2 separate regions of the Homo sapiens genome follow, and region 1 is linked to region 2. The links come from fine-mapping of genetic effects on gene expression. A gene starts in region 2. The other region holds a variant in brackets. All regions are shown on one strand. Distances are from middle to middle. Region 1 overlaps PLCG2 (phospholipase C gamma 2). Region 2 holds the start of PLCG2 (phospholipase C gamma 2).

What was found.
Region 1: its variant is fine-mapped to the expression of PLCG2 in whole blood (INTERVAL, PIP above 0.99). The same link has a PIP of 0.9 or more in unexposed skin.

The regions. Positions count from the first base shown.
Region 1 is chr16:81,921,663-81,937,822 of GRCh38, forward strand. It overlaps PLCG2 (phospholipase C gamma 2), which reads left to right. Exons shown (of 33, transcript NM_002661.5): 22 at 1,823-1,932; 23 at 5,420-5,516; 24 at 6,896-6,962; 25 at 9,835-9,992; 26 at 12,767-12,869; 27 at 14,507-14,716; 28 at 16,096-16,160. Among named protein-coding and RNA genes, the nearest start is that of SDR42E1, 82 kb to the right of the region's middle. The variant G/C (reference allele first, on the strand shown) is at 7,354.
Region 2 is chr16:81,770,246-81,784,542 of GRCh38, forward strand. PLCG2 (phospholipase C gamma 2) reads left to right here and starts at 9,046. Exons shown (of 33, transcript NM_002661.5): 1 at 9,046-9,179. LOC105369213 (a long non-coding RNA gene) reads left to right here. Exons shown (of 4, transcript NR_189584.1): 4 at 6,927-7,108. RefSeq lists silencers at 8,539-8,833, 8,862-9,131, 9,162-9,261, 9,272-9,351.

The DNA of each region.
Region 1 (16,160 bases), 150 kb after region 2:
TAATTTCATGCAGGTAGGGATGGATTTTACTTTCAGCCCTCGGCTCCTCCTTGCCATGCTTTCATCTCAAATTTAGTTTGAGCCGGCAGAGGAAGAACCACAGCGAATTTTCTGTTTGGGGGCCATGTGGCACACAATTAGTGTACAACGCTCACTTAGGAAGGGGCCCTGCTTGTGGGCTCTGTTGAAATCCAGAGATGACTTTCTTTTTCAAAAATTTATAATCCATGGCCAATGCAGATCTGTTTCAGAAAGAAATGAAATCTTGAAAAGTTGTGGGCAAATTGAGCTGTGTGTGAAATGCATTAAGAGACCTTAGTAGCAAAAACTTTTGTTAGTAGTGAAGGATGTTTTGGCGATGAGAACAGTCACCTCTCTAACTGATGACTTTTCCTTCCTGTGGCCTTGGAGACTGGCTGGTCCTTATATCCACCCTTGAAGCAGGATACGCAAGTAGAGGCTGCTCTGTTTGCAGGTGGGGGAGAGAAAGGCAAGGGTACTGCTTAGCCTCTGGCCTCCAGCTGCAGATCCCTGTGGCAGAGCTCCTAGAACCCACATTGCTTCTTATGAAACATCATGCACTATGGCACTAACTCACATTGATGGATCCAGTTCTGGGCTGAGCCACTTAAAACAGCTGGTCGATGTGGGGCAAATTACTTTCTCTCTCTGCATCTCAGTTTTCTCATCTGCAAAATGGGCATACTCATATAACTACTTACCTGTTATGGTTGCTTAAGGATTAAAGGAGATACCTTAAGGCTTGGAATAATGCTTTAGCGATACTATAGTTAGCACTTAAGAAGTGCAAGCTGTTGTCAGTTTTATCATTATACACATGATCTCATTTAGTAGTCTTAACAACCCTGTGAAATATATAAAAATTTAATTCCCATTTCACAGACGGGGGAACTGAGGATCAGAGAGACTCAAACTTATATCATTATTCAAGGGCAGAGCAATGATTTGAACCTACATATCTGACTCTGTAGCCTGTGTTCTGAGGAAAAATTTTACTAGGTTCCCTGTGAAATTCCTGTTCCCATTTCCTTTGGGTGGGAGGAGAAGGAAGCTGCTCATTTAAACAGGTTTGACAACGTCAGAGCTTTTCCCACTAACATTTGCTTGCCGTGTGGGTGTTCATTTATGCCCGCCAGGCAGAAAGCATGAAAGCAAATTCATTGAAGAAAATTTCTAACCAAGGAAGTTCTATCTTATTTAGTTCTGTGAACAGAGACCACCTTTTGATGAATTTCATGGAGGAGAAGCTCAGTTACTCTTGCAAAATGTCAGGGTCCTGCAGGAGTGTAGATAGGGGACTGCTGACCTACAAAAACAGAGCAATGAGGCCCTCAGGACAGGCAGGAAGAATGGGGTTGCCCTTGAGCTTCTGGGAGGCTTGCTGAGCACCGGCACTGTGATGACAGTCTTGGCTTAATCTAAAAGGCATGTCCTTTCTTTGTTGAGGAAATTGAGCAATATTGTGTCACTACAATATAGGGTCACTCCCACCCTAACCCTAAGCCTAACCCTAACCCCAGCGCTAAACCCTAGCCCCAAACCCTAACTCCTAACCCCTAACCCTTAACCCCAACCCAGGTACCCTTGGCTCTGACTAGGCCAGTTCTCCTTCACTCCCTGGTGGCTTTTTGGGGCCTTCGATCCTTTGCAATGCCAGTCCCTCTCCAGCAGATGACTTTGTAACCTTGGCCTGAAGCCTCCTGCTCCCCAATGAGAAGAACCAAATGGTACCTGGGAACGCAGCCGCCTCCCTCCCCTCCTGTCCCTGGCCTGACCTTTTCCTTCTTGTTTTCCCTGAAAGCCTCAGAGAACCGTGAAAGCTCTGTATGACTACAAAGCCAAGCGAAGCGATGAGCTGAGCTTCTGCCGTGGTGCCCTCATCCACAATGTCTCCAAGGAGCCCGGGGGCTGGTAAGGCTGAGTGGAGGCTGGGCTGCTCGGCAGGTGGGCTTGACTTGTCCCTTCTTGGTGATAAGACTCAGGTGCTGGCCAAGTCTGACCCCCTTTGTCATCCTGGGCTGGCTTTGACCTCTTGTGTTAAGTCCCTTCTTAGGAAGGTGGCTTGGTGCATGCTCTATTTGAGAAAATGGATAAACAACAATATTAACAGGTATCGACATATCATATCATATATTGTATATTATTATAATTACAACAGCAGCTACCATTTATTGAAGTCTTTCTAAGTGGCAAGCAGTCTGCTAATTGCTTTCCATGCATTGTCTAACCAAATCTTCAACCAAATCTTCATTACTCCCTGTGACAAAAGATGCGGCAAATGAGACTTTCCAAGTCACACAAATAAATACTAAATACTAAATAGTGCAGGCGCTTTCCAATACACAAGACTGTGTGTTATTTCCAATTCAAATTCGTATGCTGTTCCATAGTCCCGTGCTGTGTGCAATGGCCACATCCTGAATTGAAGACAATACGTTTTTCGTGCAAAGGTACCTGGGTATGCTAGGGTTTAGTTACCACTTCGCTTTTTAACCTTAGAAGAAAAATTCACTGCCCACTGATAGGTTTCTGGGGAAGTGGTTTTGTGGGGTGACTTCTGTCTGAGAGCAATAAGAACTTGCTCATAATAGTGAGCACTGGTTTAAGCACCTCATAGACTGGCATTTCTGCCTCCCACAAGATAACTGGACCTGGCTTAGGAATCTGAATAGCAGCATGCATGGAGTGCTTCTATGTGTCAAGCACTGTTTTAAGCACGTTTGAAATAACTCACTTCATTTGAAATAACTGAGTCTACATGATGACTGTAAAAGGTTGGTTCTGTTGTTACCTGCATTTTACCGATGAGGAAACTGAAGCCTTCAGAAGTGCAGTCACTTGTCCAGGGCCACATAGCAGGCTGAGATTTGAACCGCCAGGCCTTTTGACTCCAGAGCTTACACTCTTAACTCCATTCATCTGCTAAGTCCTTCCCTGTCCTCTTGCAAGATGCCTTAATCCAGGGATTATCAAACTTTTTCTTAAAATCAGGAGAACCTCATTGCAAACCAATTCATACCTAGATTCCACAGAATCAAAGATGCAGCCGAGTTACCCATTGAGCTGGAGTGGGGGCGTAGAATTGCCCTGTTTGGCCTCCTTGCTGACATTGCTGTTCCTACTGCAGCCTCTGATGCTTCCCCTTGGAGGCTCCCAGACCCAGTTGGGCAACCACAGTGTTGTCCGTCTGCTTCTCCCAGTTCAGAGGCTCGGCTTTGCCGAAGTCCCTCCACTCGAAGTGGCACAGAGTTGAGGTCTCTTCCAGGCACACTGGCGTTCCCTCACTGGGCTCCTGTCCCTGCCTTGGTCAACATCCTGGTGCGCACTGGGTGGGTGACTAACAACATTTTTGGAGTTGTGGCTGGAGCCCAGGTGACTACTCCAAATCACGGTTTTCCATTCTGTGTGAGATGGCCTCATGCCTTTCTATGCCTCTGACAGGCAGTTCTCTGAATTTCGAAGGCTCTTGTCTTAAGAGACTGTCAGAAGTCCCTTTGGCAAGGGACTGTGGGCAAACCGCCCAGCGGCTGTGGTCAATTCCTCTCTCTGATGGCAGTAGTGCTACCTAGGGGGCCGCCTGGGTGAAACCGGCTTTTTTGCATACTTCCAAACTGGTTCCCTGTAGCTAGGGGACCAAACAATTATTGTCTGAACCAAGATGCTCCTGAGAGTGAAGAGAATGTAAAGTGCTCAGTCCTGGACAGATGGTATATATGATCGCCGTAAATACAGCCAGCCCTTGCCAGAAGTGGGTCTGGAGAAATGGTGCGGGGGGGCGTGAAAAGGGCTTACAACCCGCAGTCCTGTGTCTCTGCTAGGTGAATTGGTAGCATCAGTCCTCACTCTGCTTATTCAGACCAAAAAATTGTTAAGTTCTTCCCACCACCACGGAGCACAGACTTGATTAAGATCCAGAAAGGTCAGCCGGGTGCAGTGACTTGCGCCTGTAATCCCAGCACTTTGGGAGGCCGAGGCGGGTGGCTCACTTGAGGTCAGGAGTTTGAGACCAGCCTGGCCAACCTGGTAAAACCCTGTCTCTACTAAAAATACAAAAATTAGCCAGGCATGGTGGCCCATGCCATAATCCCAGCTACTGGCGGGGCTGAGGCAGGAGAATTGCTTGAACCTGGGAGGCGAAGGTTGCAGTGAGCTGAGATCGTGCCATGCACTCCAGCCTGGGGGACAGAGTGAGACTCTGTCTCAAAAAAAAAAAAAAAAAAATCCAGAAGGATATCATATAGAGGGGAAGACAGATGTATAATTATACGTTAAGTATAAGATGTGGCTGCTTGGATGACTGTGGGGACAGGATGCCAGGGGACCACAGAGGAAGAGTGCTCAGCCTAGGGGGCAGTCAGGGAAGACTCCGTGGGAGAGGAAATGCCCAAGCTGAGTCTTAAATTAGTGGGGGGAAGTTGGGTACCAAGGGCATGGGCCAAGGCATGGAAGCTAGGCAGCATGGCAGGGGCATGATAGGGACGACGGGCCAGCTGGAGTCAACATCATGGAGAGTTAGGAGGTGATGTCTGGGAGTCCTGGGGTCAGACTGTGCTGGGCCGTGGCTGCCATGTTGAAGAGTCTGGGCTGGATTCTGGAGGCCCTGGGGAGCCATCATGTGGTGTGGTCAGAGGTGCATTTTGGAGAGTCCCTGGCTGCGGAAAATAGCTCAAGAGATGGGCAGGTTGAAGGAGGGCGTTTGCATGTCTGGGCACGGCCTTGCCGGGAGGAATCTTAGAGGTGCTCACCGTCTGGTGGGGTCCAGGAACATTCATAGATGGATTATGTCCCGTGTTGTTAGTGTTGTTATAAAGATAGGGAACAATGTTTTAGCTGAATAATAATAAGAGCTAACACTATTGAGTATTTACTGTGTACTAGGTAGGCGCTGTCCCAAGCACTCAGCTTATGTTAATTTAGAGTCCTAATAAAACCCTCTGAGGGAAGCACTCACGTTTATGCATTTTTCAGATGGAGAGTTGGAGGCACAGAAAGCCTCCACCGTCAGTGGTAGAGCTGGAGTTTAATTCCAGCCTGTCTGCCTCCAGAACCACCTTCTCTCTAAATTCACAACCTCCCCGAAATAGGGGTGAACTTTTGTCTTGTATGGTCTCTGACTTCCACGTAAAGCATGGAAACTTTTGACTTGTGATCTTTGATTAAACATTAAGATCATGTGATGGGGGTAAAATCAGCCCCCAGTAACTCATTAGTAATTAAAAAATAAAAAGACAGCAGTTGCCTTTGAGATGCTCCATTGTCACAGATAGTGACACTGGTCACTTGGCCACTTGCTGTCTGTCCCCATCAGAATTGAGCCAGCAGCCGGGTGCAGATGAGCAGTAGTGGGTAATTCATGCCACCTGGTGACAGCGCCCCCATGTCCTCTCTTCTTATCCAGGTGGAAAGGAGACTATGGAACCAGGATCCAGCAGTACTTCCCATCCAACTACGTCGAGGACATCTCAACTGCAGACTTCGAGGAGCTAGAAAAGCAGGTGAGTCCCCCTCTTCGATCCTCTTACAGGAAGAAGGGATCTGCAGGTCCAGTTTTTCAGGGAGCTGTGCCATCTCAGTGGGTGAATTTTTCCATGTGCTGCTTGTGGTCTCTGTGGAGCTCTGGATCAGGGAAGACACAGTGATGATAGGGAAATTGAGATTGAGTTGTTGTGGGTGAGTTGCTGTGACAAGCCGGCCGTGTTTTAATCAGGTTGTGTTGGGCTTGGAAGGATTTCATTATGCAGGAGAATTCCCGCTGGAGTGAAAGTGACCAAATGGGGAATTTGTCCTTTGCTTAAGCAACTTGCAGATGAAACACATTTATATTGGACAGCCAGACATTGAGAACGTGCTTGGGGCGAGTAAGCAAGTGGGCCTAACCAGAGGTGAGATGAGGCCTTCCTGGTGACTTTGCAAACCTGGTGGTTGTTCCCTCGCCGCCTCTTGTTTAGAGAGCAGCCACTTTCAGCGTGCTAGCACTCCACCAAGGATGATATCTTTGTAATGAGGATTTTAAGATCCCGTTAGACCCCCAGGTGTTTATTTTCTAAGGGATGTAGGGCAATCTGGGAAGGCTTCCTGGAGGAAGGAGTATTTGACCCTTAAAAGTCAAGTTAGAGTTCAACAGCAAGAGACTGGCAGAAGAGAGGTGCAAGTGGGAGGTACAGTCTAAGCAAAGGTGTGGCAGTGGGAATGTGGTTGTGTTCCGTGTGCTTGGGCTGAGGCAGAGACTGGAAGCCCTTGCTTCCTCTGTACTGAGTTGCCCTTACCTGTACATCAGCATTTACCTGGTGCAGGGGGTGGGGTTTGGGGTGGTGCAGGCAAGGAGTGGATGCCTGGTTCTGCCACCTCTCCTAAGCCCAGGATATTCTTCATCTCAGCCAGACCCTGGGATGGTTCAAGGGTGCAATGGGAGGCAGAGCTGGAAAGGGTGATGGGGGCTCTGAAAGTCTTAAAAGCCAGGTCATAGAGCATGGGTGTTGCTTCCACAGGACATGGGGAGCCACAGAAGGTTCTTGAGCCGGGCTTTAGTAGGCAAAATAGTCTCATTTTCTAATAAGGTCAGATAAATAGTCTAGGATGTGTTTGGAAACCAGATCTGAGGAAGCATTATGAAACCTGTTCTAGAATTCACAAGGCACGTTTTTACGGATTGGAAAATGAAACTCCGAACCTCCTGGCACCCTCTCCCCGCCAGGTCCCTATCAGCTCCATGCTTCATTATTTAGCTCTCTCCCCATGGACGTATCTGGTAATGAAAATGCATTTTAAACAGTTCCACAGGCAGTATCTCTGCTAAACGGTGTGCTTTGGAAACGGGTTTTCTTTTTATTATTCCCGTTACAACTAACGTGAGTTATGTCTTGTTTCTTCACAGATTATTGAAGACAATCCCTTAGGGTCTCTTTGCAGAGGAATATTGGACCTCAATACCTATAACGTCGGTACGTGCACACATCATCTTAGCCTGGATTTCCACCCCTATCCCCCATGGGCTGACCTCAGCCCCGCCCTACACAGGGAGGTGGCTGACACAGGGTCCTGTCTTGAATGCCAGCTCCTTCCCTGGCTGAAGCTGAGTATTTAGGTCAGGCTGGTCAGTGAGTATGATGCTATGTCTGCTATTAATCTCTACTAAAACTGTAAGTGCTAAAACAAGGTCTCGTACATAAGTGCTAGATGGTGGTTAGCGGATATTATTACCAGCGTCACTCTTATTATTTCAGGATCCATCTGTGTTTCCCATGCGTTGCGAAGGAAAGCTGAGCTGTCAGCCTGGCTGAAATGCAGCGTGGAGTTGGGAGTCTTGGGTTCTAAACCCAGCTCTGCCTCTCT[G/C]TCGCTGTGAGACTACAGGCCTGTCACTTCTCCTCTTTGAACCTCTGCTTCCTGGTTGCTCGGCTGGGGCCCAGGAAACCCAGCCCGCCCACGTTGACCATGCTGCAACGGGATGTGAAGGCGTGGCCCCAAGGCTAGGCTTGTCCAGTGGTGGCCAGGGTCTGATGTGTGCTGGGTTTCCTGGGTCTTGAGCCTGCCTGCTTTGAAGTGGGTGTGGTGCAGCTCCCATGTGAAGGGACTCTGTAGCGGGCCTCCTTGTTCTGGGCAGCCCATGACCCTCCCTGGGCAGGCACGGGCATGCTCCCCTAGGACTCAGGTGACAGCAGCCCCAGGAACTTCCTGCTTCTATTGCCAATGCTCTGCTTTACACATTCATTCATTTATTATTATTTCTTTTCGCGATAGAGTCTCGCTGTGTCACCCAGGCTGGAGTGCAGTGGCGTGATCTTGGCTCACTGCAACCTCTGCCTCCTGGATTCAAGTGATTCTCCTGCCTCAGCCTCCTGAGTAGCCGGGACTACAGGCATGGGCCACCGTGCCTGGCTAATTTTTGTATTTTTAGTAGAGCTAGGGTTTCGCCATGTGGGCCAGGCTGGTCTCAAACTGCTGACCTCAAGTGATCTGCCTGCCTTAGCCTCCCAAAGTGCTGGGATTACAGGCATGTGCCACCATGCCCAGCCTGCTTTCCACATTTATAACCTGCTTCTTTACCTTTACAATGATCCAGCAGGATAGGTAGGAGAGGGATTCTTTGCTCCGATTACCAGATGGGAAAATCAAGGTCCTAAGTGACCGACCACCACATGTGCTGAGGTCCTTTGGGCAGGGGGGTGCAGGATCCCTGCATCCACTTCTGGTGCTCTTTGTATCATCTTCCCCCATCCCTGTATCTGCAGAGCAGAGGCACATGGCTCATTGGTTCTGAGTAGAAATCTTGGAGTCAGGTTTGAACTGAGCCTCAGTTTTACTACTACTAGCTGTATGACTTTCCACATGTGACTTTCTCTTAATGAGCCTCAGTTTTGCCTCCTGCAAAATGGGCCTAGCAAAAGCAGGGTGCCTTTAGTCTCAGCTACTCAGGAGGCTGAGGTGGGTGGATCCCTTGAGCCCCAAGAGTTTGAGACCAGCCTGGATAATGTAGCAAGAGCTCAAAATTAAAAAAATAAAATAAAATAAAGATGCAATACATGTAATCTGCTTAGAATATTGCCTGGTATATAAGAGCTCAGAAATCTTAGCTACTAATATTATTTGGCAGATAAGTTTCCCTGTCATAATCTTTTCTTCTCTGTAAGATCCTTTCTCTGTGTCTGGAGAACCCACGCCACATTTCTCTCCTAGTTTCTGGTGACTCTTTGGTGTTTTTGGCTCATGGCTGCATTCTTCAGTCTCCACATTTGCCTGCACATGGCTTTCTCCCTTGTGTCTGCATCTGTTTTTAAAGCCATTTAGCTGGGTGTGGTGGCTCATTCCTGTAATCCCAGCACTTTGGGAGGCCAAGGTGAGTGGATCGCTTGAGCTCAGGAGTTCGAGACCAGCCCTGGGCAACATGGCGAAACCCCTCTCTACAAAAAATACAAAAATTAGCCAGGCTTTGTGGTGTGCACCTGTGGTCTCAGCTACTAGGGAGGCTGAGGTGGGAGGATCGCATGAACTTGGAAGGTGGAGGCTGCAGGGAGCCAAGATCGCACCACTGCACTTCAGCCTGGGTGACAGAGTGCCACCCTGTCTCAAAAAAAAAAAAAAAAGCCATTTAAATTATTTATTCTTTATATGTAAAAGATTATATGTAACAACATAGAAAATTATGCACAATATGCTAAGTGAAACAGTTCACAAAATTTTATGTATTGTATGTAAACATTTTGTAAAAATGCCAAGTTGCTTAGCTATATTTTAAATATTTTTAAAATGAACATGTATTGTTTTAGTAATTTGTAAAAAATATTTATGATGAGTGTAAAAAGCATTTTCTAATTGGTCAACCAAAAAGATATTCAGTGTTTCTTTTGATCAAGACGAACACATGTCTATAACTAAAGTGGACAAGAGGGTATTTTTTTCAGGTTCTCTCATGCATTTTAATGTTTGTTTTTTTTTCCTGCATCTTAAGTGTCCCTCTCCTTTCTCTTATAAGGATACTCATACTTGTTGGATGTTGGAATTGCCCTAAATCCAGGATAATCTCATATTGAGATCCTTAACCTAAGTACATCTGCAACGACCCTATAAGGTCCCATTCACAGGTACTGGTGACCTGACACATCTTTTCGGAGGACCCTACTGAATCTACTGCATCCCTTGAGTAGTCATCTGTGATGTGTACTTACCCCGATGGAAAGTAGACGTCCCCATCAGTGCTAACCGTGGTCATAGCAGTGGTGGTTGGTCCATGAGAGAAACAGCTCAGGCAGGGTGCAGTCTGGTCTTTGTGGCCCTCTAATAGGCTGATTGGGACATTTCTTATTCTCTTACCCCAAGTGAAAGCCCCTCAGGGAAAAAACCAGAAGTCCTTTGTCTTCATCCTGGAGCCCAAGCAGCAGGGCGATCCTCCGGTGGAGTTTGCCACAGACAGGGTGGAGGAGCTCTTTGAGTGGTTTCAGAGCATCCGAGAGATCACCTGGAAGATTGACACCAAGGTAGGCACCTGCTCACCCGGGTGCAGGTGGGCCTGGCATTCTGAGGGCTTTGGTGCTCAGTTGGGACTGTGGGTGGGTCCAGGCAGCAGGATGAGCAGGCCCAGGTCCTACTCAGAATTCAGGAAGGAGACCAGGTGGATTCAGACAATTGGAGCACCTCTTGTTAGAGAGAGGCAGGGATAGTGGAGGTGCCCTGGGAAGGTGGGTCTGGTTGTCTGGTTCGAACCTTCAGAAGGCTGAGTGCCTGCAGCAATGCTCATTGATGATGTCTTTGCGGCCCTACATATCTTACCAAGGAAGTTACTGCCTTCCTCATTTTGAATATTTTCTTTCTAAGTATCATATAAAGCAGTCTGGATCCTCCTGACAGAAAACGTTCACTGAGCTCACCTGCCTGGAGCTGGAATGGGCTCTGGGAACATAGCAAATCAGCGAGACCCGGTTCTTTCCGGTGGAGGAACTTCCCCTCTAGATGGGAGTGACCTTTTCAGGGCTGTCCTACCTGAAGTACTAGTCTCTGGCTGGAAGTGTTTTGGGAAGGTGTGAGCTTCTGGATAAGAATAGGAGGTCTGGAATTGGGCAGACTGGAGTTTGCATCCTGGCAGGGCTGGACCCTGGGCAAGTAACCACACTTCTCTGGGCCTCAGTTTCCTTGTCTGCAAAATGAGGAGCCAAATTCCTAACTCACAAGTACTTAATCACTGCCTTATCATTATATCAGAGCGACATGGGAAAGTGCCACCCTGTCTTCGATGATGGAGTAAGGGCTGTCTGTTCTTGTGGCTGCCGAACTGGAAAGAAATTGTAGGGTTTCCCATGCACCCATTTGTTTCTAAGGTAGAACTTGACCCAAAGGGCTGATTAAAGCCTTCCTGGGGCCTCTTGTGCCCTCTGACTTCTGGCTAGAGTCAGTGAGTCTCTCCTCCAAGATAGTCACCCACCAGTGGCCAGGTCATTTTTTTCCCCTTGGGAGGGCCTCACATCTTGGCCAGTCCCTGGTCACGAGAGGATCCTTGACTCACTCAACTCTTCTGCAGGGAAGTGTCCTCTTTAGGAGACTTTGCAGAGGGGACTGGTCCATGGGTGCCCTCGCTGGTGGGGCATCGTCTTTCTCTGACCCAGGAACTCCTGGGGGCCTTCCCTAGGGCTCCTAATTCTTCCCATGGCTTTTCACACCACCAGCCATGGGGGAGGAACCATGAGCTTGTAGCCAGCTGCGCTGTCCTTCTGGCTTTCCCAGTGAAACCATCTCTTCTGCCCTCCAGTGTCTCTGATGCCACAGTACAGCTCTGAGGCACAGGGAGGTGCCACGACCCTGAGGTTTATTTAAAAAATCTCCAAATAGTGCACTCCAGCTCTCTCTACTTTGCTTAATGTGGAAAAGTGTTATTTCCCTAGAAGGCTCTGTCTCTCCCCTGCCTCACACCTCCTCTCCTGCCGCGTGAAGGTTCCTGAAATGAAGCTGAGCTGTTCAAGGTTGCTGTTGGCGGCCTTTGGTCTGCATTCCTCTCTAACTGGTTTTTATATTTACTGAGATTTCATGAGAATGATTTTTAAAGTCCTGTTATTACATCTGAGGGGTAAAAAAACTGGGACAGTAGAGTTGACGGAGTTCCCACACTGGGCACAGCTACCCCTTTTGCGGAGCTGGTGTTGGGGAGCAAAGGAAGAAGGCCCCATCCCACTCTTGGGAAACCAGCGGCGGATAAACTCTTTGTCACTGCCAGGACCTCTGCCTGTCCCTAAGTGCCCGCATTGTTACACGGTCTGTAGCCACCTCATTGATGGCAGAGGGCAGTCACAAAATCCTTCTAGTTAGTGGGTTTCCAGAGCCTCACCAACTGTATTGTGACTTCCCATTCTGAGATGGCTTGAGGGGTGACAGCTGCAGGCCTGGAGAGTAATTGTCATGCTGTTTTTTGTTTTTTTTTTTTGAGACAGAGTCTCACTCTGTTGCCCAGGCTACTCAACTTCTTTGTTAAATGGAGATAATTCTCCCTGTCAGGGTGTGGATTGACTTAGGTAATATCCCTCAAGTGCTTAGCCTGTGACGGCTAGAGCTAAGCACCCCCCAAACAGTCACCATTATTATCTAAATATTCTCTCAAGGTCCCCCCTTGGCCAATAAAAGTCTGATAGAATTTGGGGAGGCCCAACAGGGTTGCCTGCTTTGGGGTGAAGTGAGAAGCTCATCCTTACATGCAAGGAGTTAGATTTGATGGTGGGTCTTCTGAAGGGAGGTACCTCCTGAGTCCATGGCACATGGCCTGGGCACTGGGTAGTGGTCCCCTTGGACAGAGCCCTGATGGGCAGTCAGAGCTGGGGAGCAGGTGTGCAGGTTTTGAGGGTGCAGGGGATAGAGAGTTATGACGAGGATGCTGGGGTCCACAGAGCCCCCGAGGATTTGAAGAACTAGAATTTGAGACACTCTAACAGTGTGGCTTTAGGGGAGGGGACAGGAGGCAGAGTTAAAGACAGAGGGGTGGTGACAGAGAAGAGCCCCCTTCCATCCTGACCTCACCTATATTTGAGGGCTGTGGCCAGGACTGAGCTGCACACCAAAACCTCGTGGAAACAGCTTTGTCGAGAATTTTCACAGTGAGAGGAAGAAACGAGAGGGGCAGGGTTGTCTTCAGGAAAGGAAAACATTCAACCATATTAAAGATCCGAGTGTGCAAGAAAGCAAAGTGGGGATGGAGGAGGAAAAATGCAGGGCGAGCTGGGAAGATGGGATTTCTCGGGGGCGGGCACTAAAGACAGTGAACTCCAAACAGGAGAACAACATGAAGTACTGGGAGAAGAACCAGTCCATCGCCATCGAGCTCTCTGACCTGGTTGTCTACTGCAAACCAACCAGCAAAACCAAGGACAACTTAGGTAACATCTTTCCCAAGAACATGCCCTATAACTCCAATGAAAACTTAACTTCCTTTAGAGTCTGATATTTTCAGAGGGGGCAGAGAGTGCATTCTCTCATTCTTAACTACTCCCAGTAGATGGCCCCACCTTGGGTTTGTCCTCCGAGTGAGGGAGCTGGTGGCAGAAGCTTTTTTGGTGTATTAGTCCATTTTCATGCTGCTGATAAAGACATACCCAAGACTGAGTAATTTATAAGGAAAAAGAGGTTTAATGGACTCACAGTTCCACGTGGAGGAGGCCTCACAATTATGGCAGCAGAGGAGAGAGAATGAGAAGCAAGTGAAAGGGGAAACCCTTATAAAACCATCAGATCTCGCGAGACTTATTCAGTACCACAACAACGGTACAGGGGAAACCACCCCCATGATTCAATTATCTCCTATCGGGTCCCTCCCATAACACGTGGGAATTATGGGAGCTACAATTCAAGGTGAGATTTGGGTGGGGACACAGCCAAACCATATCACCCACTTAGTGGGTGGATTTAGTTCTTACTGCCATTACCACAAACTTGGTGGCTGAAAACAACATTTATTCTTGCACAGTCCTGGAGGCCAGAGTCTGAAATCAGTATCATGAGGTCAACATCAGGGTGCCAGCAGGGCTGTGCTCCCTCCGGAGGGGAAAGCCATTCCCTTCTTCCAGTTTCTGGGGGCTGCTGGCATTCCTTGGCCTTCTCCTCTTCTGCTTCCCTATTATAAGGACCCTTGTGATGCATTAGGTCCACCTGGATATTCCAGAATAAGCCTCCCATTTCAAGCTCCTTAATCACACCTGCAAAGTCTGTTCTGCCATATAAAGTGACATGCACAGGCTCCAGATATTAGGGCCTGGACATCTTTGGGGGCCATTTAAAAAAAAAAAGACCTTCTACCACATTCTCCAGGTAGCAAGCTTTTTGATGATGCTGTACGTATTTTTTTCTTTGGGTGTTTTGAGCTGCTTCCATATCTTTCATCTTAGAACAGAAGACCAGCCAGACAATACTAGACCCCTCAGTTAACTTACCGGGAGGCCAGTCCCTAGGAACTTCTACCTTCAGGGACTCAGCAGGCTCAGCATGTTGACTGCCGGGCTATCCCACCACAGCTGGATGGGAGAGAAGATGAGGCCTGTCCCCTTCCCTCTCCTCCTGTTCTCCCTTCCCTGCACAGGCACCCACATTGCAACCCTACCTGTGGGCTTTGGCAGGTGATTCTCAGTTTGTTCATCTTGTGTCTGTGGTCTCTCTGGATCTTCCCCTCCCAAGATCTTCTCCTACCCAAAACCATTCCCATTCTCCCTCTTCTATAACTGTACCACTTTTGTGTTTTCTTGTTCAAGGATGGTGATAGTTTAAAAAAAAAAGTAAATTACAGTAATTCTAGCCTAAAAGGTGGTGGGAAAACTAGGCCCCTTTTTAATACTTGGAACCCCCAGAGGGCAAGAGTCCACAGTGATACCAATTGGGACAATATCATCAGAACCCCTTGAATGTCAAAGAGGGAGATTCCTGGTTTCCTTTTATAATCTGAGCATCCAGCCATTGCAGCAAACATTAAGAAAATGCACAGATGAGACACAGAAGTACTGATGACCTTTTTCTCTGTGTGCAGAAAATCCTGACTTCCGAGAAATCCGCTCCTTTGTGGAGACGAAGGCTGACAGCATCATCAGACAGAAGCCCGTCGACCTCCTGAAGTACAATCAAAAGGGCCTGACCCGCGTCTACCCAAAGGGACAAAGAGTTGACTCTTCAAACTACGACCCCTTCCGCCTCTGGCTGTGCGGTTCTCAGATGGTGGCACTCAATTTCCAGACGGCAGGTAAAGGCCGACTGAAGGTAGTCCCGTCCCTGCAAGGTGGCGGTTGCAGTCACTCCAGGCCGAGTCACCTTGGGTCAGCGATACCATGTGGTGTCCAAGAATGAGTGATTTGTCCGAGGGACTGCACGGTTCAGCAGAGTAATGGTTAGTATGAGGTCCAGCAGCTGAATGGAGGGATGAGAGGACCGAAGGCTGCTTGGCTTACGCAGGCTTCGTGATTGTAAGTAAGTGACAGAGGCTGAGTTAGTCTGGCTTAGAAAAAGAAAATGCATTAGTTCATGTAATTAAAGCATCTTTGGAGTTCTCTTCTCCAGGCCTGTTGCTGTGTGAGGGCTTTCTGCTCAGACTTTCTTCCAGAGACATTTACATGCTGGCATAACTAACATACACAAACTTCTGGACACAAAGTGATCGCATAAATCACGGGGCTTTGTGCTTTTGTTGTTGTTATTTAAGACCTCTTTCGAGGGATCTATTCATCAGTAGCCTCCTTTACATTCTTTTTATAGCCACATCGGATTCCACAGAATGGAACAATCATTTATTTAATAAGTCCCCGTGGAGGCACATGTAGGTATTCCCCATTATTTGCTGTCATAGACAGCACTGCCTTCTGTACCCTGACGTGAGCGCCATTCCACAGATGTAGGAATATGTCTATGGGACAGAATTCTCAGAAAGGCAGGGTGGGTCAAACAGCGCTTGCATTTTGATCAACTTTGCCCTGAGGAAAACCACTGAAGACGTGCCTGAGCTAAGCCACACTGCCAAACTGCCCTCCATAGAGATCGTGGGCGGGGATGCAAATAGGTGGAGGTTGGAGTACGCTCTTTTGGTATGACTTCGCTGAGTTTTGTTGAACTTTTTGCCGTTTGCACAACTGAGAGGTGAAAACTGATACATCGTCGTCCATTAGAGCTTCTTCTTGTAAGGGACATTAACCAGTTTTTCCCTCATTTAGGGAGCAGTGGCATTTTCTTTTCTGGGAACTATTTGTGCTTCTTACCTGATGTATCTACTGCAGTAGGTATTTATAGCATAGATGTATCAGAACTAAGAGGTTAAAAATTTATATTCACATATTTGTCATTTGAATTAAAATTGCCTATGCAATTTATTGCTACATAGACACTTTTAGCAAGTTTGAATCTTTTCTTTTATGATTCGGGATTTGGTGACATACTTGGAAAGGTGTTCCCCAGTCTGGGAGTTTGCTGTCTAGAAACCCTATATTTTCTTTGAGTGAGATACCTATTTGAACAGCTGCCTCACATTAATTTGGGGAAAAGGTGAAATTCATTCCCCACCTAGAAACTCCTGGCCTAGGGGGCCAGCGTGCTCATGCCTGACTTACAGCAGGCGTTCACTTTCCTTCCCAGATAAGTACATGCAGATGAATCACGCATTGTTTTCTCTCAATGGGCGCACGGGCTACGTTCTGCAG
Region 2 (14,297 bases):
TGCTGCTCATCACCACCTTCCCAAGGGCAACCGTTCTGACTACTAGCAGCCTTGTTTTTGAAACAGTTTTAGTTTTCTATAACAACTAAGACATGCATAGTAAAGAATATTTAGAAAACAATGACAAGAGAAAAGTCAGAGACATGTGAACATATTGAACAGCCTTTAAAAAATATTAATTTTTTGGCCTGGTGTGGTAGCACATGCCTGTAATCCCAGCCCTTTGGGAGGCTTAGGTGGGAGAGTCGTTTGAGCTCAGGAGTTCAGGACCAGCCTGGGTAACACGATGAAACCTTGTCTCTATAAATAAATACAAACATCTAGCCAGGCTTGGTGATGTGTGCATGTAGTCCCAACTACTTGGGAGGCTGAGGTGGGAGGATTGTATGAGCCCGGCGGAGAGGGCAGAGGTTGCAGTGAGCTGAGATTGCGCCACTGCCCTCCTGCTTGGGCTACAGAGTGAGACCCTGTATCAAAATAATAATACTAACTTTCTGTTGAGGTATAACGTGCATAAAATGGCCCAGATCAGGCCGGGCGCGGTGGCTCACGCCTGTTATCCCAGCACTTTGCGGGGCCGAGGCGGGCGGATCGTGAGGTCAGGAGATCGAGACCATCCTGGCTAACACGGTGAAATCCCATCTCTACTAAAAAAACAAAAAATTAGCTGGGCGTGGTTGCAGGTGCCTGTGGTCCCAGCTACTCGGGAGGCTGAGGCAGGAGAATGGTGTGAACCCGGGAGGTGGAGCTTGCCGTGAGCCGAGATTATGCCCCTGCACTCCAGCCTTGGTGACAGAGCGAGACTCCATCTCAAAAAAAAAAAAAAATAAATAAATAAATAAAAGGCCCAGATCATAAGTACAGAGCTCAGTACATTTTCATAAAGTGACTAACCCATGTGACCACAAGATCAAAACCTAGAACATCGCAGCCCTCAAGGTCCTTCCTTCTGCTGCCTCCAAGGCAGTGAGATTCTCTATTCTGACTTCTTTTTGTGTGTGAGAAAAAGTCTCTTTCTGTTGCTCAGGCTGGAGTACACTGGTGTTGTCACAGCTCACTGCAGCCTTAAACGCCTGTGCTCAAGGGATCCTCCCATCTCAGCCTCCCAAGTAGCCAGGACTATTCTGACTTCTAAAAGCACTGATGAGTTTTGTGAAACACAGCCTTGTTTTAGACAAAGCTTCCCTCTCTCTGGTGCTGTTGGAGAACTCTTGCTCATCCCTCAGGACCCAGTTCTGAGGTTACCTCCTCTGAGAAGTCTTCGCAGCTCCATGAGGCAGAGGATTAGCCCTTGCCTGATTTGTCCCTCTAATTCAGCTCTTGCCATTCTGTGATAGTAAATGCCTCTTCCTGCTGTCTCCCCATTGAGAGGTAAATAGGTCTAATCTATTTGCCTAATATAGGGTACAGTGGGTTGAATTGTGACCCCCCCCAACCCCCCACCCAAAAAAAACAACAACAAAAAAACTAAGTCCTAAACCCTGCACCTGTGAATGTAACCTTACTTGGAAATAAGGTTTGTTTTTGTTTTTGTTTGCTTGTTTGTTTGTTTTTTTGAGTTGGAGTCTCTCTCTCTTGCCCAAGCTGGAGTGCCAGGGCAGGATCTCCGCTCACTGCAACCTCCACCTCCTGGGCTCAAATGATTCTCCTGCCTCAGCTTCCCAACTAGCTGGGACTACAGGCTGTGCCTCTACGCCTGGCTACTTTTTGTATTTTTAGTAGAGACGGGGTTTCACCATGTTGGCCAGGCTGGTCTTAAACTCCTGGCCTTAAGTGATCTGCCCACTTCGGCTTCCCAAAGTGCTGGGATTACAGGTGTGAGCCACTGGTGCAAGGCTGGAAATAGGGTCTTTATGGAGGTAATTAAGTTAAGGATCTCAAGATGAGAACATCCTGGATTCAGGGTGGACACTCAATCAGAGGACTGGTGTTCTTACCAGAGAAAGGAGAGGGGTATTTGAGACAGAGAGCAGAGGGCCATGAGAAGACAGAGGCAGAGTTAGAGTGATGCAGCTCCAAGCCAAGGAGCGCATGATCACCACCAACCACAGAACCCGGGAGAAAGGCGTGGGGCAGATTCTCACCTAGGGCCTAAGGAGGGAACCAGTGCTGCTGCTGGCACCTTGCATTCAGACTTCTGGCCTCCAGAACTGTGAGATGATATATCTCTATTTTTTTTTAAGTCACCAAGTTCATGGTAATTTGTTACGGCAGCCTTTGGAAGGTAAGACACGGGGCCTGGTATTAAATAAGGGCTCAGTGTTTGTCCAATGAATGAAAGGGGCCAGGCACGGTGGCTCACGCCTATAATCCCAGCACTTTGGGAGGCCGAGGTGGGTGGATCACCTGAGGTCAGGAGTTCAAGACCAGCCTGGCCAACATGGTGAAACCCTGTTTCTACTAAAAATACAAAAAAAAAAAAAAAAGCTGGGTGTGGTGGTGCATGCCTGTAATCCCAGCTACTCGGGAGGCTGAGGCAGGATAACCAGGGAGGTGGAGGTTGCAGTGAGCCAAGATCATGCCACTGTGCTCCAGCCTGGGCAATAGAGTGAGACTCCATCTCCAAAAAAAAGAATGACTGAAAAGGCTAAGAAAGGAAGCTTGGCTTGCTGGTCTGTGGTGGGAACAAAAGGGAGACCTTCGGATGCCTTCTTGCTCTGTGCCAGCTGCCTGGTGCAGCCTATGACCACTGCAGGACCCTGCAGACTGCCTGCCTGACACCATCTCCCCTTGCCCCTGCCGACAGCTGCCCTGTTTGGCCACATACTCTTGGGCATCCTCTCATGATGTGGGGGAAGCTGATCCATCCTAAATATACTGCCAAATGTGGAAAATCCCATTTTCTTGGAGAGTGACTGAGGCAGAGCAGGCTTTGTGACCCATTTCTGGCCAATGAGACAGAGGGAAAGCATGCTGGGTGTGGGGGGGCGTTGGGAAAAGGTGTACTCTTTTCAGTCTCTTCCCTTTCAGGTCTGGTTGCCAGGAGTGGCAGATGTGGAAATAATCGGTGTCCCTGTTGACACACTTGAACTTCTCAGTGTACCTTGTCTGCACCCCAACCACTCCTGGGCTTCCAGCAATGTGAGATCATTGATAGCCTTTTTGTGGAAGCTGAATACGTCCTAGTGGAGACTCCAGACATGAGAACGAGGGGCTTTTGTCTTCAGCAGTGCAGATTGGGAAACTGAGGCTCAGAGACTATTACATTGTTGGAGACACAGGGGGGTAAGAGGCAGAGCTGGGATTCACACTGAGGCCCACCTGTCTCTGTGTCCCATGTTTTCAGCTGCTCTTGTACACTATTGCTCTTGGCTTTCAACTGGCTGTCTTGATTTTACATGAGGTTTGGGGCCTGGCAAATGCCTGGTTGCAGTCTGGTTCTTAGCATAACAGGGTCCGCATGTTGAGAGTTCATTGCAATGTAGTGACTACTGAGTCAGCTCCAGGGGTCCCATCTAACCAGGATCCATGCCCAGGACTTGGATATGCGTTCGCAGACTCACTCCTCCACAGCAGCCCTATTTACCAAAGAAGAAAGTGAAGCTTACAGCGGCTGCAAATGCTGTGCAGAGCTACAGAGAGTGAGCGACTGGGACTGGAACCAGCTCTGTCTCACTCCAAAGCCCCCTTTTTGTGTTCCTCCAACTACACTCTGTGCCCATCATGCAGGACTTTGATGGTTGCTGCTATATCCCTGGAGCCTGGGAGTGCCTGGCCCCTTGCAGGCACTCCGCAAATGTTTGTTGAATGAATAAATGAGCTCCACCAGGACTCCAGGTTAGAGGTGCTCAAAGCAAAACCATGGGTCGGGCACAGTGACTTATGCCTGTAATCCTAGCACTTTGGGAAGCTGAGGTGGGTGGACTGCCAGAGCTCAGGAGTTTGAGATCAGCCTGGGTAACACGGTGAAATCCCGTCTCTACTAAAAATACAAAAAAAAAAAAAAAAAAAAAAAAAAGCCAGGCGTGGTGATGCACGCCTGTAGTCCCAACTACTCAGGAGGCTAAGGCACAAGAATCACTTGAGCCCAGGAGGCAGAGGTTGCAGTGAGCTGAGATCCAACCACTGCACTCCAGCCTGGGCAGTAAAAAAAACAAAACAAAACAAAACCCACAAAACCATTAAACCGGGGGCTCCACCAAGCTGGCCACAATTTAAATAGCAGAGGGGTCTGCCCTCCCCTACCTCCAGAAGCAGTGAGGCCTAACCCCATTGAAAGCCCATTCTGGGTGGTACTTCCTCTCACAGAGGCCTGCCAGCCAGCAGCTGGGACTCGGCTCGTCGCCACGGATGTGTGCTTCTCTGAACAATGTTGGGAAAGGAAACTAGACTCAAGGGCTCCAGGGGGTTTTCTGGTCATTTTGGCTGTGGGGGTAGAGGGGTAGGGTTGGCGAGGTTCCCTGGGGCAGGGCGGTGGACCTCAGCCTGGTCACTGCCTTTGGAGGTGGTGGTGGAGGAGGGGAAAGGAGGTCTGGGTTTGAAATAACCCTCTAAGGGTGTTTTTTTTTTTTTGGTCAGGGTCTTACTCTGTTGCCCAGGCTGGAATGCAGTGGCACATGATCTCGGCTCACTGCCTGCAACCTCTGCCTCCTGGGCTTAAGTGATCCTCTTGCCTCAGCTTCCCGAGTAGCTGTGACTCAGGCTCACTCCACCAGGCCTGGCTAATTTTTAAAGTTTTTTGTAGAGATGGAGGTCTCATCATGTTGTCCAGGCTAGTCTTGAACTCCTGGGCTCAAGTGGTCCACCCTCCTTAGCCTCCCAAATAGCTGAGATTACAGGTATGAGCCAATGTGCCCAGTCCACAGATATTTTTCAAAACAGCTTTCTTGAGATATAATTCACATCCCATGCAACTCATGCATGTAAAGTGTACAGTACAGAGGCTTCAGCACATTCACAGAGCTGAGCAGCCATCGTCACAATCCATTTTAGAACATTCTTATCATCCCAAAGAGCAGCCCTGTACCCCTTATCTTTTACCTTCCGATAGGCCCGCTCTCTGCTTTCCTGGTCCTTGGCAACCACTGATCTACGTTCTGTCTCTGTAGATTTGCTAATTCTGCATATGCTATAGGTGGGTCTTATGATGGGGAAATTAAGTCCAAAGAGGGTGGCTGAGCAGCCCACAGCCATAAAACTAAGGAAGGGGCAGACTTGGAACTGGAGCCCAGATTCCTTGTTTCCAAGTTCATGCTTTCACAGGAGGTCTTCTTCTTCCCAGTAACAATTCCTAAAATAGTCAGCCTTGGTTTTGCCCCATGGGGATGAGGGCTTTACCTCCCTCATCTCACAGTCCCCCTCAGATGTAGGTACATTTCTGATACCCATAGGTATAATAATGAGGAAACTGATACCCAGAGAGGCTAATGGTCCAATGCACCATGGCTGCCAGCAAAGAGAAGAGGGTAATAGGGAAAAGCATTTGTATGCCCAAGGACTGGTGAGCAACACAGAATACAAAGAGTCAAGATGATTCAGCTTAAAATGTAATTTTCTTTCAGGTTATTCTTTCTTACCTATCCACTTCCCTTTTTCTTTCTTTTGTAGGAAAAGGAAAAGAAAGATCCCTCTACCCTTTGAGGTCACTTCCTGACCCATTTGTGCATCTATGTAGAGTGGTTACAAACTCACATCTCCCTGCCTGAATGCCTCTTATTAATCTGGGGATGGGTGGCAGGTCAGCATGCCCATGGGCTCTGACACCAGACAGGCTGAGGTTCAAATCCAGCCCCCACCACCCACTGACTTAACCCACTCTAGCCCTCTGACAGCTAACCTGTGACAGGGCCTTTCTACCTCATATGTCTGAACCCACAGAGTGGTTTCTTTCTCTCTCTCTCTCTCTTTCTTTCTTTTTTTCCTTCTTTCTTTTTTGTTTTTTTTGACGGAGTCTCACTCTGTTGCCCAGGCTAGAGTGCAGTGGTACAATCTCGGCTCACTGCAAGCTCCACCTCCTGGGTTCAGGCCATTCTCCTGCCTCAGCCTCCTGAGTAGGTGGGATTATAGGCACCCACCACCAGGCCAGGCTAATGTTTTTGTATTTTCAGTAGAGACGGGTTTTCACCATGTTAAGCAGGATGGTCTTGATCTTCCAACCTCGTGATCCGCCCGCCTCAGCCTCCCAGGGTGCTGGGATTACAGGCGTGAGCCACCGCGCCCGGCTCAGAGTGGTTTCTTTCCCTACCTATTTTATTCCATGGAAAAGAAAGAATACACAGAATGGTTCCTTCCCCACCTATTATCCTTGGGAAAAGAAGTGTCATTTTACATTAGAGTCCTCCCAGAACAGCGCCTGCCGCCTTGATGATGACGACGATTGTTAATTCTGAGATGGAGTCTTGATCTATCACCTATGCTGGAGTGCAGTGGCACCATCTTGGCTCACTGCAACCTCTGCCTTCTGGGTTCAAACGATTCTGCTACCTCAGACTCGTGAGTAGCTGACACTACAGGTGTGTGCCACCATGCCTGGGTAATTTTTGTATTTTTAGTAGAGAGGGTGTTTTACCATGTTGGCCAGGATAGTCGTGAACTCCTGATCTCAGGTAAGCCGCCTGCCTTGGCCTCCCAAAGTGCTGGGATTACAGGTATGAGCCACTGCACCTGGCAGATTATTTTTATTTTGAACAACCAAGTTAGAGTTTGAGAAAGAGATGAAGGGCCTCCAGTACTCTCTTTCAATCCACTGATTCCTTCAGTCGTTCACCTGGGGGGTGGGGTTGGGCTAGGGGTTGGTTAGCAAAAAATGAGCCAAAGAAGAAAATGAATTAAAAACATGAAAGAAAAAAAAGCAAACTGCCATTTACGATGACCATTATCTCACACACAGTGGACATTTTAACTCAAAAATACTATAGGCTCACAGGCATAGATTAAACAGAGAAACCTGTTCTTCATGTTCTTATTTTTTTGCTTGCTTCCCACAGATGAGAGAAAAATCCAGCCAGAATTGGCATCTGTCAAGATAGGCTTTTAGGAGCCACGGCTCCCTAGAGTGGTCTCCACACATTCTGATTATATGCAATCTCATTTTGCCATCAAGAGACTTAACCCACTCCCCTATCCATGTAGACTTTGTAATAATAAATTATACATATATATGACTGAACTAATATATTATGTACTTTATATAACACATACTAAAACAAAAGTGTGAAAAAGATTGGTTGAAATAAATACAAGCTGAAGTTCTAAAAAAAAAAAAAAAAAAAAAGTGAGGCAAAGGAATTGCCCCTAGATGTAGTCATTTTTCCTGGGGAATTGGCCCAATGACTTCAAGTGGTTGATGTCATAATGAGTCCTTCCAAGATCTCTTTAAAAAATTGATGTGTTAAGTGATCTGTGGTGATGAGCACAGCTATACACGCCAGTTGGGAGTGCTGAAAGAAATGAATCCACAGATCTTGTGAAGTCACAAACGAGTCCTATGGCTTGGGATACAACATTGACAGTGAGAGTGATATTCCTCAATTAAAAAACGCTATAACAGGCCGGGTGCAGTGGCTCATGCCTGTAATCCCAGCACTTTGGGAGGCCAAGGTGGGTGGATCACTTGAGGTCAGGAGTTTGAGACCAATCTGGCCAACATAGTGAAACCGCGTCTCTAGTAAAAATACAAAAAATTAGCCAAGCATGATGGCATACACCTATAATCCCAGCTACTCAGGAGGCTGAGGCAGGAGAATCGCTTAAACCTGGGAGGTGGAGGTTGCAGTGAGCCGAGATCGTGCCACTGCACTCCAGCCTGGGCAAGAGAGCAAGACTTTGTCTCAAAAAAAAAAAAAAACAAAAAAAAAACAAAAAAAAAAACAAAAAAAACCAAAAACACACACACACAAAAAAAACGCTATAACAGACCAGTGGCACATGCCTGTGATCCCAGTGCTTTGGGAGGTAGAGGCAGGAGGATTGCTTGAGGTCAGGAGTTCAAGAACAGCCTGGGACACATAGTGAGACCTCATGTCGAAAAAAGAGAAAATTAGCCAAGTGTGGTGTGCCTCTATAGTCCCAGCTCTTCAGGAGGCAGAAGCAGGAGGATCGCTTGAGTCCCGGAGTTCGAGGATGTGGTGAGCTATGATGGCACCACTGCACTCCAGCCTGGGTGACAGAGTGAGACCCTGCCTCTTAGAAAACAGAAGCTATAACTCAAGCAACTTGGAAGTGAAATTCAAGTGCCTGACAGCTGTCTAGGTGCCCCTGAAACTGCCTCTAGTCACAACAAAGATACCTCCATCAAAGAGCATAGGAAGGGTTTGAATCAGATAGCTTCATGCAACACACGAACGGAAAAATAAATTTCTTAAAGAACATATTAGCTTCTTCCCATGAGATCAGGAAAACGGGACATCAATTGTCTGGGGTTCTTTGCTCCTGACTCCCTTTGGGGCTGGCACTATGTTGATCACGTTTTACAGATGGGGAAACTGAGGCTGTCGGTTTTTAAGTGGTCTGCCTAAGGTAGCAGTAAGGGTTGGTCTGACTCCAGCGCAGCCTCAACGAGGGCTTCAAATTAGGGCCATGAATTGGCAATTCCTGGCGGGTAATTGTGAAGAGTATATTTATTTTTAATTTTTATTTATTTATTTTTGAGACGGAGTGTCTCTCGGCCACACCCATCCTAGCTCATTGCTGTCTCGAACTCTCGAGCTCAGACGATCCTCCCGTCTAGGCTTCCCAAAGAGCTGGGATGACAGGCGTGAGCCCGGGCGCCCGGCCGGGAGTGTGTTAAGTATACGGCAAACACCTGGACTGCGGCCGGCTCTCCAGGAATGCCATGATATTGGGGAATTCCCTTTGCACCTGGCCAAGTGGCCTCGGGCAGGTAGCCTCCCCTCGGGTTGCCTCAGTTTCTTCTTTGGCACGCAGAGGCGGGGCTCCAGGCCTGGGCCGCTCCATGGCGGGGAGGGCGCGGGGACGCTGCACTCGGGGTGCGCTCCGAGAGGCGGACCCGGCTGGGCGCGCCTGGGGCGGGGCGAGGCGGGGCGAGGCTGGGCGGTGCGGGGGGCGGCCCCCGAGGATCACGTGGCGCGGCGCCGCGGCCGAAGCAGAAGTAGCGAGCGCCGGCGGCGGAGGGCGTGAGCGGCGCTGAGTGACCCGAGTCGGGACGCGGGCTGCGCGCGCGGGACCCCGGAGCCCAAACCCGGGGCAGGCGGGCAGCTGTGCCCGGGCGGCACGGCCAGGTGAGCTGCCCGGCCGGGAGCGAGGCAGGCAGGGCGCCCAGGGACCTGCGCCCCGCGGGGACCGGCTCCCAGGGCGCTGCGTCCGAGGGGGTCTGCGTCCTGGCTCAGCCGGAGCGGGCAGGGACGGGGCGCACCCTCGGGGACCCCGGCCCGCCGTGCCCGGGGTCCGTTTGGTGACGGCAGGGATCCTGGCCCAGCCGCTGGCCACTTCCTCACCCCGGGCCGGCGCCACCTCTCCGGTCCGTGCGGTGGGGCGGCCCCAGCTTTGAATGGGGACCGGGAGGAAGGTCAGGGGTCGTGTGGGGGCTGGCGTTCAAAACTCCTCTTTTCGAGCGGCTCTGCGTGGGGTGGCGCCGTCTCTCTTGACGGCCCTTGTGCCCAGAGCTCGCGGACGCTCGGAGCCACACTTCCCTGTCTCACTTCGGTGGTTGCGGGTGGCGGGTGGGAGCGATACCGCGGGAGGCGCAGTCCTTCCCGGAGACTTTTGGAGAGCTTGCAGGACACTCGCGATGCCCGCTCCGCAGCTGTCTGCGTAATTATGCGTGTGTCTGTGCGTGTTGTGTTTTGTTGTGTTTTGGAATCCCAAAGAGGGCATTACCCGCACAGCGCAAGAGTTCAGGTTAAAGACGTGCCCCGTTTGGACGGGGAGCTCCTGGATTCCAGCAGGACGGTGGGGCGGGGCTCTCTTGGTACCCTAATCTTGAACTAGGGTGAGAAACTATGGGGGGCGGGGTGGTAAAGGGGTGACATGGCGCGAGGGAAACAGGTGGCCTTGCCCGTCGGAACTTAATTTGAATTTCAGTTCCATCAGTGGGACCCTGGGCAAGTTGAAGAACCTTTTTGAGTCTGTTTCCCCCTCTGGATACTGGAGCCACCCAATTTTCCAGGGCTGTGTCGAGAATTGGGGCTTATTGCTGTTCCACGAGGTTCGCTGAGAATCGGGGCGCATCCATGGAGAGTCCTTGGGCAGTTCCTGACTCTCTGGTTCAAGGGCATTCTCTGGGGCATGGGCCCTCGTCCTTGACTACAGTTCTGCGGGGAAGTTTTACAGAATTTTGAAGTCTATGCCAGCCTCAAGCAGTTTCTCTTGCAAAGGTGTGTGTGCAGTCACGTGTATACCAGCTCAGGGACAATCGTCATTGTGAGCCTCACTGATGTTTAAGTCACCTAATGATGCAGCTGCCTTCCCCCACCAGCGACTGGAGTATGGGCAGTTCCTCTGGAAGTGGAAAAGCACAGACCCCATGAATAGCCCTTTTGCACTCATTGGGTAGAGTCAATGAAAAGCTGCTGGTGAGAAAACTTTTGAAAACATTTCTTGGTCAGGCACGGTGGCTCACACCTGTAATCCCAGCACTTTGGGAGGCCGAGCTGGGCTGATCACTTGAGGTCAAGCGTTCCAGACCAGCCTCACCAACATGGTGAAACCCCATCTCTACTAAAACTACAAAAATTACCTGGGCGTGGTGGTGGCCGCCTGTAATCCCAGCTACCCAGGAGGCTGAGGCAGGAGAATCACTTGAACCCAGGAGGTGGAGGTTGCAGTGAACCCAGATCATGCCACTGCACTCCAGCCTGGGTGACAAGAGAGACTCCATCTCAAGACAAACAAACAAACAAACAAACACACACAAACACTTCTTAATTTAGAAAACAGCAAGAACACAAAGAGAAAAATTTGCCCGTTACATCATCAGTTAATATAAATAAAGTCAAGTTGTATCCTCTACCCTCTCCCAGCCTCCGATAAATAGTAACCACTCTCCTGGATTTACCAGAAGATCACCTTTATAAAAAGGGAATTGTATTATACTCATACAGTTGCAACTATTGTCTGAAGCTATTTTTTTATTGACCTCACAAATCTTTCCAGATCAAATTGCTTATCTATCATCCTCATTCTTTCTGATGGCTACTGAGCGTTCTTCAGTGCATGTGCACCATTATTTATCCAGGAGGCCCCCCACATTGATGAGCAGTTGTTTTCTGTTTTTTTTTCTTTTTTTGTATTTCTATTGCAACTATTGCTTCCGTGATTTTCTGTCGTACATATTGCATCTTTGTGCATGTCTTTCTTTACATGTACAATTGCAGGATCGAAGCATATGCGTGTTTTGCTTTTTAGTAGCTGCTCACAGGTTGCCCTAAAGGAGCAGGGGTGGAATTTACACTCTCACTTGCAGTGGCTGACACCATTCCTTTGAAAATAGTGTATTCCCTCTAATGCTGCAGGGTGGGTGTAAGGTGCAGCAGTAATGTCCCTTGAACTGTTGGAGGGGCCCTTACCACTCAAGTATTTGCCTGTGCTCCATTTTAACACAATTGTCTTGTGGGATTTTTGGATGAAATCCTGTACTGGCTTACCATGCACAGAGCACTGAAGAGACAAAAACTTCCTTGATTTCTGGTTTTGGGTCCTCGCATCTCATTTCATGTCCTTTCCCCCCCCCCCCCCGCCCGCCCCCGAGACGGAGTCTTGCTCTGTCGCCCAGGCTGGAGTGCAGTGGCGCGATCTCGGCTCACTGCAAGCTCCGCCTCCCGGGTTCACGCCTTTCTCCTGCCTCAGCCTCACGAGTAGCTGGGATTACAGGCATGTGCCACCACACCCGGCTAATTGTTTTGTATTTTTTTTTAGTAGAGACGGGGTTTCATCGTGTTAGCCAGGATGGTCTTGATCTCCTGACCTCATGATCCGCCCACCTCGGCCTCCCAAAGTGCTGGAATTACAGTCATAAGCCACCGTGCCTGGCCCATTTTATGCCTTTCTAAATAAGCTTATGAGATACAAGAACATGAATGAGCTTATGAGATACAAGAAAAACCTTTAGAAGGACATGAAATGTAAAAATGGCAAAAATCAGTTATTCAAACTCAGCCATATTTGTATTTACAAAATAAGTCATTTTATAGAATTACCCATTAAGAATGGGAAACAGGAACAAAAAAGGGATTTCAAGGCTTTTTTTTTTCTTTTTTTGAAAAAACCAAAAAAAGCAGAAGCAAAATGGAAGTTGCTGTGGTGGCTGGTGCTCTCTCCTGGGCTCAAGGTCTTGGAGACCTCCCTGCCATAGTTGATAAAGCGTGGAACGCTGGAGACCTGAGCTGGGTGCTGGCAGGATTTGAATGGTGGACTCCAGGGATCTTTTGGCCGTGAAGATCTGTTTCCAATTGCATCTCATAAGCTCATTCATGTTCTTGTATCTCACAAGCTTATTTAGAAGGGCATTTCGTGAGATACAAGAACCCCAAACCAGAAATCAAGGAAGTTTTTCTCTTCAGTGCTCTGTGCATGTTAAGCCAGTACAGGATTTCATCCAAAATCCCACAAAACGATTCTGTTAAAATGGGGCACAGGCAAATACTTGAGTGGTAAGGGCCCCTCCAACAGTTGAATGGACATTACTGCTGCACCTTACACCCACCCTGCAGCATCAGAGGGGATACAGTGTTTTCAAAGGAACGGTGTCAGCCACTGCAGGTGAGAGTGTAAATTCCACCCCTGCTCCTTTAGGGCAACCTGTGAGCAGCTATTACAAAGCAATTGGTGAGACGCAGCATGGAAGTCTGGTGTTTATGGCTGAGTTGATCCACTGGGCTTCGAAGCTGGAAGTAACTGGGACCCTGGGGAAGGTTAAGTCCAAGGCCCTCCCAGAGTGAGGGCTGGAAAGAACTGAGGAGCCTGGTCCCTTGTCCTGGTTTCTGTCTAATTGAAGGTGTTATAATGGGGCTTGTGTTTCCTACTTATGTTCCAGTGGACTATGGCCTAGAGACCTGGGAGTGGGGAACTCCAGGATGCATGGCTGGGAACAGTCAACATAGTGAAGAGCTCTGTGGTTGGCAGCTGGGTCAAATCCAGTTTCAGCTACTTTTTTAAAATTTTATTATTATATTATTATTATGCTTTAAGTTTTAGGGTACATGTGCACAACGTGCAGGTTTGTTACATATATATACACGTGCCATGTTGGTGTGCTGCACCCATTAACTCGTTTTGCTACTTTCTATCTGTGTGACCTCGGATAAGTCCCTTAACCTCTTTTGAGAGTGGCAAGTACTGGCAAATCAGTTAATATCTGGCCAGATGCTGCCACAGGATTCTGGACTAGGGGCTTGGGACTCAGGTGAGGGTTTTGATCTTTGTGCTGCTGCTGGTCTACATGACTTTGATCAAGTAATGTGACCTCTTGGGATTTCAGTTTTCCGCTGCCGTATTTCCCATTGAGATAAATGAGACGAACCAGACACAACAGGTGCTTGGCACCTGGGGAAGGGCCCAATAAATGGCTGCTTAACAAGGATGAAATGGACCATGGGGGCACCTTGTTCATCCCTTTGTCCTGGCTAATGATCAGGAGGTCATTTTGGGTTTCTCCTGATAAGGTAAGATGCACATTAACTCTCAGCAGGGTTTTTTTTTAGCATACTCTGTTCTGCCTCCTAGCCTTTGCTTAAACTTAAAGCCAGTTCCTCCTGCTTCATCTTTTTTGAAAGATTGAGTTCAGATGCCTGCTTTTTTCCCCTGAAAGCTTTTTCTGAGCCCTTTAAGTGCCTAGCCACACTCCAGATTAAATTTAGGATTCCTTCTTGCTGCTCTCTGCCCGCCGTGCCCCCAGTGCATGCTTCTGCTGCTGCACTTGTAACTACATTAGAATTCTCAGTTGATTAGTCTGTTTCCCCATGGGCAGAGAGCAGGTGTAATTATCTCCTGCTGCTGGCATGGCTGACCGAGGAGGTCCCTTTGGTATGGGTGTGCAGTAGAGGGAGGTGGGGGCAAAGGGCAAATCCTGGGCCCCTCCCCATTCCCCTCATTTGCATCCTAGTCCCCACCTCAGTGCCTGGCATAGAGTTGACATTTGATTAATGCCTTCCCCAATGGCTGATTAATGCTAACTGAGACCCTGGTAAATGCTGCAGGCTGTGCATACATTGTAGCTTTTTGTCTTCCCAGCTGCCCCTTGTGGGCATTTAACCTCCATTTTACAGATGAGGGAACCGAGCCACAGATTTAGAGCAGCTTGGCAGAAGGCTGAGCCCGGCTGGAAGCACAGACAGCCCTGGCTGAACACCAGCCTCTCACTCCTCCTTCTTTGGATCCTGGGAGGGTCTCTCTAGTGCTAC